3 separate regions of the Homo sapiens genome follow, and all the other regions are linked to region 2. The links come from fine-mapping of genetic effects on gene expression. A gene starts in region 2. Each other region holds a variant in brackets. All regions are shown on one strand. Distances are between the middles of the regions. Region 1 overlaps MARCHF1 (membrane associated ring-CH-type finger 1). Region 2 holds the start of MARCHF1 (membrane associated ring-CH-type finger 1). Region 3 overlaps MARCHF1 (membrane associated ring-CH-type finger 1).

Evidence for each region.
Region 1: its variant is fine-mapped to the expression of MARCHF1 in lymphoblastoid cells (GENCORD, PIP 0.95).
Region 3: its variant is fine-mapped to the expression of MARCHF1 in sun-exposed skin (GTEx, PIP 0.94).

The regions. Positions count from the first base shown.
Region 1 is chr4:163,619,158-163,621,924 of GRCh38, forward strand. The region is part of intron 5 of MARCHF1 (membrane associated ring-CH-type finger 1); the gene reads right to left. Among named protein-coding and RNA genes, the nearest start is that of TMA16, 130 kb to the left of the region's middle. The variant CCA/C (reference allele first, on the strand shown) is at 1,410.
Region 2 is chr4:164,382,617-164,385,383 of GRCh38, forward strand. It overlaps MARCHF1 (membrane associated ring-CH-type finger 1), which reads right to left and starts at 1,403. Exons shown (of 10, transcript NM_001394959.1): 1 at 1,254-1,403. RefSeq lists an enhancer at 631-1,132.
Region 3 is chr4:163,542,433-163,545,199 of GRCh38, forward strand. The region is part of intron 9 of MARCHF1 (membrane associated ring-CH-type finger 1); the gene reads right to left. Among named protein-coding and RNA genes, the nearest start is that of TMA16, 49 kb to the left of the region's middle. The variant G/C (reference allele first, on the strand shown) is at 1,272.

The DNA of each region.
Region 1 (2,767 bases), 760 kb before region 2:
ACGTGTTGGATTGCATCCTGAAAAGAATGAAAAGTTATTGCAAGTATTCAGCAGGAAATAGAACTTATTAAATCTGGGTACTAGAAAGGTCATTTTGGCAGCTGAGAATTGGAAGGTTCAGGGTTGTCTGAAAGCAAAGAGCAGAGTTAGGATTCCATATATCCAGGATGCAGTGAGGATGGAGAAAAGGGATAGTTTGAGCAATCAAATCCCAACAGGTTGTTTTATTTTAAGATATGGTAAAAATAATTTGAAAGATCAACTGAAAAAGTGACACAGGGGAAAAGATTCAGGAAAATTATTTAATAAAACTCAGTAGGATCCAGAAATGAGGATACTTTTACCAGACATCTAAATGTAGTATAATTCTAGAAATTAACAGAATATGCACGTGGCACAGGGAAAGACACATCATTAGAATAGAACTGAGAGGCTAGGAATCTATCTGTCTATATGTATCTTTCTGTTTCTCGGTACAGACAAATTTGCATCTCTAGTTAGTGGGAAAAGGTAGGTTATTAAAAAAATGGCGTTGACTGGTCATTTGGAAGAATGTAAACCTGAGTCTACTGGTTACAGTAAAGTTTAGGCAAATGCAAGATTTAAATACAGCAAAAAAAAAGACCCATCAAAGTATGAGAAAAACATAATTTATGTTTAATTAATGTTTATAATAGGTGGAAAAAATCCTTTTCTTATGATGATGTAAAACAAAATGTGATATAGGAAAACAGATAAATATGATGATCTAAAAAATAAAAACTTCTAATTTATAAAAAGGAAACACATACACCCATATACCAAAACCATCCTGGACAAAACCAGAATTCATAAATAATGCCTCATTTTATTGCATATATGATAGCCAAATAGCTAATTTCTCTAGTATTTGGAGATCTTTCACGGATCAAGAAGGAAAAGTTGATCAGTTTTACAGAAAAATGAGCAAAACAGGTAGGTAGTTCACAGAAAGGGAATTATACATGGCCAAAAGCCCTGTGTAAAAAGATGATCAATCTCAATAAGCAGATAAATGTAAATTCAATTAACAATGGTATCCACGTTAACTTATCAGATCAGCACATTTTAAAGAGATTGATAATACCCAGTGTAGCCGAGGTGGGGAAGCCACGCGTTGCTATATATTGTTGAAGTAACTGTAAATTGGTACAACTTATTTGGAGAGAAATTTGATAAACTCTATTAAAATAAAAAAATGTATACCATTAAAGTTGGAAATTCTACTCATGGGAATTAATTTTGCTGAAACATTTTTATAATTGTCCAAAGATATATTTACAAGATTGTTCATTACAGCATTATCTGTAATAGCAAGAAGTTGGAAACAACCCAAGTGTTAATTCATTATTTACAATGAAATACATAAGCCATAAAAAGAATGAGGTACA[CCA/C]CACACACACACACACACACACACACACACACACACACAGAGAGAGAGAGAGAGAGAGAGAGAGAGAGAGAGAGAGAGACACGCACACACACACACACATTTATAGAATATATTTTTAGGAGAAAAATAAAGTTTCAAAATTGTATACAGTGTCATCTTGTTAGGGTAAATAGTGCTTTATTGCTATCTGTTTGTGTATGCACAGAAAAAAATCTGGAAAAGTACACATCTAGCCATTAGCAGTGATTATACCTGTGAGTTGGGATCATTGGAAACCTTTATTTCTCAGGCTGTATATTTCGTAATGTTTAAAATCTCTAATTTAATAATGAGAAAAGTAATTCTTTGGTCACGTTGATGATGTCATAAATGACAACTACTAACATCAAGAATCAAGATTTGTGTTTTGTTCTCCACTATTTAAGTGATAAACTCTTTGCTTATTTAAAGTCTTAGAGCTCCACTTCCCCTTTCATTAAATGTAGTCAATAATAACATCCACATAAAAGGATTGTGAGGATAATAACATGAAATCATTGATCTGATAACTGTTTTGTAGAGTGTCTAAGAGTTGTAATAGGACACTGATCTTGAAATACTATAATTCTTTTTACTAATTCTCAGTATGTCATTTTTTTCTCCCCACACATGAACTCAATGGTATTCTCCTGTTCAGAAGGAAGACACATAACAGTCTTAGACCAGTAACTCTCAATCCTGTCTAAAAATAAGAATTGCTGGGAAGTTTTTAAAAAATACCTTTGCCCAGGTTGATGATTCTAGAATCTGTGAGGAATGGACCTGTAGCACAGCATCTGGATGTCAGTATCCTTAAAAGCTGCTCCAGTGACTGTAACGCCCATCCAGAGTTAGAAACCACTGGTTTAGGTTAAAGGAGATCCTATCCTACTTAGAATTTTGTATTAGATTTTTTTCTGAGATTTCAGTGAGAGAATATTTGTGAAAGCTTGATTTTTTTAAACAAAGAAAACTGTGTTTTCTAAATTCCCAATTTTTGCTTTATATATCTATAAGAGATCTTGGAGTTCTGGGCATAATTTTACTACAATCTATAGAGAAAGGAGACAGAAGGTACGACTGAAGAAAAATTTGCAGCATACAGGAACACTGGGTCTCTGCTTACTACTACTTGCTGCTGAAGAGCAGGACAGGAGGAGAAAAACAAAGACTGAAATTCCACTGCCTTTACTCTCCATTTATCCACCCTGGGTTGAATGTGGTTTGGGCAGAGGGTGTGGGGGTAGAGAAGGGTATGAGGAAGACTCACCAGGATATTTCTGGGGGAAAACCAAGAGCACGACTCTTGTTCTTCCCTTCCTGGGAGGACTATGTGCC
Region 2 (2,767 bases):
AGATATTCCTTTTGTAAACACATTGACATTAGAAACAGATGTTCTGATAGGTACCACCGCTTCCTTGTGATCTGAAAATTGAACCTCCTAAACAAGGAATTCATCAATAAAACCTGTGTCCGCCAAGCAAAAAGCCAGGGGGTTGGGTGTTGGCATGTTGGCTATATAGCACTTATAGGCGAGACAACTCTAAACTAAGGTACCTGAGCAGGTTCAGAATCTTTTTTCGTCAAACCCACAGAGCTCTATAATAGAAAACATTTTGATCTCAAAAATGTTTAGCAAGCAAATCTTTTCTGGAACTACTGAATAACAATAAGAATTGCCAGGAAAACGTGAGGCTCTCTAACTACATATTGGCCATGCCTCTGATTCCATTCACCTGTCACAAATCTCCAAAATCAGCGCTTCAGAAACCAGAGAAAAGAGCGAGAGTGAGTCTCCCTTAACTTTGCCATTTCCCTCACACCATTTGGGGATAAAACTTGGGCGTCTCTCTGCCTCGACTGGTCACTCCACTTCCTGGAGCTCCAGAAACTCCCTCAGCACCTGGATAACTGCGACACTCACCCGTGAGCGCAGGACCCTCCTGGCGTCTTAAGTCCCAGCTCTCAGTCCCGCTGGCCGCAGGAACACAATGACATCTCTCGCCCAGGAGGGCGGTTGCAGGGAACCGAAATCGGACACAACAGTTGCAGTGAACCCGACTCAGGGTTGAGCGCATCAGCGCTAAACCCAAGACAAAGGCTGCCCTGTGTCTTCCGTACTCAGCGCTCTCCTTTGGTAATCGGTCCCCGTCCCCTTCAAGCCCACACTAGGAGCGCGTGAGCCTGTGAAGTGGCTGTCATCGACTCCGCGCTTTCCGAGGGGTGCGGCTCCGTGACTAGTACCACGCCGGTGTAAACAGCGCGCCGCGCACTGGGGATCCGCCAGAAACGGCGCGCGCGCAGAGCGGGCGCTGGGGGCCAATAGTAGCAACTACCCCAGGCTGCGGGCTGGAGCCGCCTCCTCTCACCAGAGAGGCGCCTACTGGGCGAGCCCGCCGCCCGCAGGTTGGGTGGCAGCACCCGCCGCGAACCCCAGCCACGCTCCCCAGTGGACCCACCAGGCAAAGGCACCTGCTGCCTGCCCTCCAGGGCTGATGCTGTGCCAAGCCCCGCTCGGGATCAGGGACAAGCCGCCCAGGACTACCAGCCGGAGAGAAGGGGCTCCCAGTGAGGCTGATTGAATGAATGATGTTTGCAGTCACTTACCGGCGGAGGGTGAAGTAGCTCAGGCGGCCGCCAGGCTGCGTGCGGCCGGCATCCCGGGGCGCGGGCATTCTCCCATCCTTTGTCAGTTGCGGGTGGAGCGCTCCTCCCCAGCTAGCGGACGAGCAGCCGGGTGGCAGGCAGCCCGGCTCTGGCTCGGCTCCCCAGTCCTCTCCCCTCCTCTGCTCCCCCTCCCCTTCTCCGTCCCCCTCTCTGAGCCGGCATTCACTGGGCTCCCATGATGTCATCCAGTGGAAATCTGCCATGCTCAAAGACTGGAATAATCCAGCGCTCACGCGGGGAACGCAGAGCAGGCGGAGGAGGCAACAGAGCCTCTAGGAGTTCCCAGAACTAGCATCTCCAGGTTAACTGGAGTCAAGGACAGGACATAGGGGAGTCTGCGGAAAGCAGGCTCCGAGGGTGTATGTGGGCCGGGTGGGCGCGGTGGGGATGGGGCCGGGGATGAAGAGCCTCTTCTTTGCCGTAAAGATTCCTAAATCAGTACTTAAACTGATGGCAGATGCCAAGGATAAGGAGAAAGTTTTTTTCTGGCTGCTCAGTAGCTCAGGTGCCCCATCTCGGTGATGGACACCTACACTGCAGCCACGATAATAATTAGAACCCCTGGAACCCTCAGAGCCCTAGTCACAATGAGAAAGTTTAGGATGTCTGACCAATGACAGCTTAAATGATGAGCAGCTAAAGTGAGGGAGAAAGATGTGTACTGTTTACAGGCGGGAGTCTGAGGCAAAACATTAAACAACGAGGGGACCTCAACAATCTATGACATGAACACCGAAAAGACCGCTGGTCTGAGGCAAGAAGGCACCAGTAGCAATTCACTCCTAGCCTTAGTATTGACCTCCTGTCTTCCCACCATATACTAATGGACACTCGAGAAGCGACTCTCTTGTGGCCTCACCCAAAGACTGTCATCAATGATGAAACTATTTAAATCACAAGGTTTATTGAAACTCATAAAAGGTGCGATGCCAAATCTTTTGCTCAAGATTCTATATAACATCAATAGAAGTTTTATTAGAGGAATAGACAAACAGCCTGAGTATTTTTGAAGATTCCGCTCTTTTCATGGAAACAGGCAGATACACCAGATCTGAGACCCAGCCCTACAGCAATCTAGAGCAGCTTCATGTCAAAAACTCTCCTGTTCAGGGACCAGATTTCAACAGCTCATGGTTTGTGCTCTAATCAGTCCAAGCTTCAAGGAGGCTCTTGAGTTCCCAGGATTACCTACCACCTGTCATTCCTGGAAGAGACTAAGCTTGCAGAGAAAAGTACCAGCAGCCAGTGCTGATTAGGCAGTCTTCAGTGAGAGTGCTGGGTGGGAACGTGCAGCCTCTGCCGCTGCATTCATCACCATTATCCTTTACAAGTGTGAAGACTAAGAATAACATTTATTACAAGTGTAGATACGGTTAGAAACTCCTTAATCTTTGTAAATACAAAGAGGACTCAATAAAATAATAACAACAACAATTTAAAGGCTACTCACTATC
Region 3 (2,767 bases), 840 kb before region 2:
AATGGCATGTGGTGAGTTTCACAGTCAGGCACAGCTTCCCTAGCTGCATGATAGAATCATCTAAGGGTGACTAAGTATAAACCTCTGGGGATAAAGCCCAGCTTTGCAGCATTAGGAACATACCACAGGTAATCTACCATGCAGTAAATGTGGAGAAGCCCTGGGGAGGGTAAATGCAGGATGCTATGGGACTACGTGGTAGGGCAGTGACTCTCCATCCTTAGCCAGCATCAGAATCACCTGTAGGCTTCTTCAGTACAAACTGCTGGCCTCCACCATCAGGGTTTCATAGGTCTAGGGAAGCAGGAGGTTAAAAATATGCATTTCTAGTGAACGCCCAGGTGATACTGATGTTGTTGGTCCCAGGACCATACTTTGAGAATCACTGTGCTAGGAATAACGATCCTACTTCAGGGAGCTGTAATGAGTTTCCCAGAGGAAGTGATGTTTAAGGTAAACTGCAAAGGCTGAGTTGGGATGAGGGAGGTGTGTGAGAATATATGAGTGTTTGAGTGTGTGTGGTGGTGGTGGACAAGAGAAGCTGGAAGGAAATGTTTTACAGAGAGAGGAAAGCTGAGCAAGGGCCTGGATATAGATTTGAGGAGCTGAATGAATGTTCGGCCTAGCTGGCTTCAACTAGGTCACGGGGGCAGCATAGTCCCACTGAGGAATTTCGGTTACCTTTTAATGGTTAAGTGGGAATAGGATGTGATTAGATTTGTGTTTTTGTAAATCTGCTGGGATTACATTACTGAGCATGGGTTGGGTTGAAGTTGGCAAAACTGGAGAAAGTCTAGTCAAGAAGCTTCTGCAGTTTTCAAGTTAAAAATATGATAGTTTCCACATGGATGGTAGCCATAGGGAAGGAAAGAAATGGACAGATTCCAGAGGCATTCGAGACAGAGTGAATAGGATTTGGTGATTGATTTAAGGTAGAAGAGGAAGGAGATCAGAGTGAAAGCTGTGTATCTGGGTTTGGCTACTAGATGTTAGTGGTGCCGTTCCCACAGGTGTTAGAGTGAGAAGTGGTAGGGGATTATGCATTGCGACACGCTGAGACTTTCAAACAATCATTCAGAAGATAGGTGGATGTATGGGTTGGAGTACAGTAGGAGTGGGAAATGAATTTGGGAAGTTATCAGCGGGGGCCTACAGAATGAGCAAGGAGACAGAAAAATGGAAGAAAGCATGGAGCCATGAGTTTCTTGGTTTTTGGAGATATTTTTGTGGCTGAAGTTGAGACCATCGTGTTCATTGTAGGGTAAATGATT[G/C]CTATTCAGTCACATGTCTTAGAAATGTGGTTGGATAAAATAAATGTAAGAGAGGGGTTTTCTTATGGGTGTCTATGAGGGTCTATGTATACATGACGTGAGATTGCTTCCTCTTCTTACATCTACGAGAAGGGCTCTTAATTTTCTTTCCTTCTCATGTAGCTGGAGGAGAAGAGCTCTGCAGTTTACTACAAAGAGGCCAAGTGAGGGTGACCACTGGGAGAGGGGAGAGACTACATTACCTGGAGGAAATTTGTGGTTCTCAAATGCTGAGCTCTAAATGTGTCATCTAATCTAAGGGTATCATGTCTGCCCTTGATTGCTAGGAAAACACTAGAGTTCTAGGGTAAGACATTGGGTGAAGCGAGGTGGGGATGCCTTTTTGTTTTTCCATCCATATGCGACTGCAGGATGTACAGCACACTGTTTGTTACTTGGGCCAGTACCTATATCAAGAGAGGACATTGGATTTAAAAAAGAAAAAGAAAGTTCTACCCTCAGGGAACTTATTTAATAAGGATGTAATGTGACATTTTAAAATCAAGACTCTCTGAAACAGTACATAATGTAGTTGCAAACAATGTAGTTTGATATTAATGGTATGTAAATGAGTTAATATGGAATAAATAAACACATAAAAACAACCCACAAAACCCCATCCTAACTGTTTTTCTAGCATTTAGACTCGACACGGTAGTGCTTTCATTTTCTTCCAGAAAAGGACAGTGGCACCTGGAACGCTGTCACCATCCCCTCTTTGACGCACAGAAACCCCATCCACAATTCCTATCGTGGGTCCTGGCCTTCCCTTTATCCCCGCAGCCCCTTTCGGCTTTTTGAAATGCTCAGGGCGGTGCACGCTGGCGTGTGCTGCTGCCACCTAGAGGGCGAGTGTGAGAATGGAGCCTCCCCTTCTGTGTTTATGAATCCCCACGCAGAAATGCAGAAGTAACCAACCTTTCTGTGTTTTAATCTCCTCCTTATTTATATTTTTCTTACCTCCTCTCTTTTTTTGTTCTTTCATTTTCTTCCATTTTTTCTCTGGGTGTAGGGATGTGCAAACATTTTTCACAACATTACAAACTCAAAATGTTACTATCTGAACAATGTCTTTTCTAGAGGCATCAGTGGTTAAATACTGTTTCCTGCGGGAGTGTGGGGATGTTTCTCACTGTTTTACCACCAACGATTTAGGCTGGATAAGGTATGAAAACTTATAGGGCCCAATGAGAAACAGAACTGGGTCCTTTCACACATGAAAATAATATTTTATAGACATTGTGCTTTCTCTTTTTGTTTCTGTTTTAAGTGACTTACCCATTTTAATGTGAGAATATGCCTTACTGATTTAGAAACATTTTTCTTTGCAGACTTGACACCATCCTTCACAATCAAACTTCGCATGGCTAAAATGTCAAACCATGGTGCTAACCCACTCTATCAAACTATATAGTACTAACTAAAGAGCTATAACACATTCTCTACTGGAATGCCAT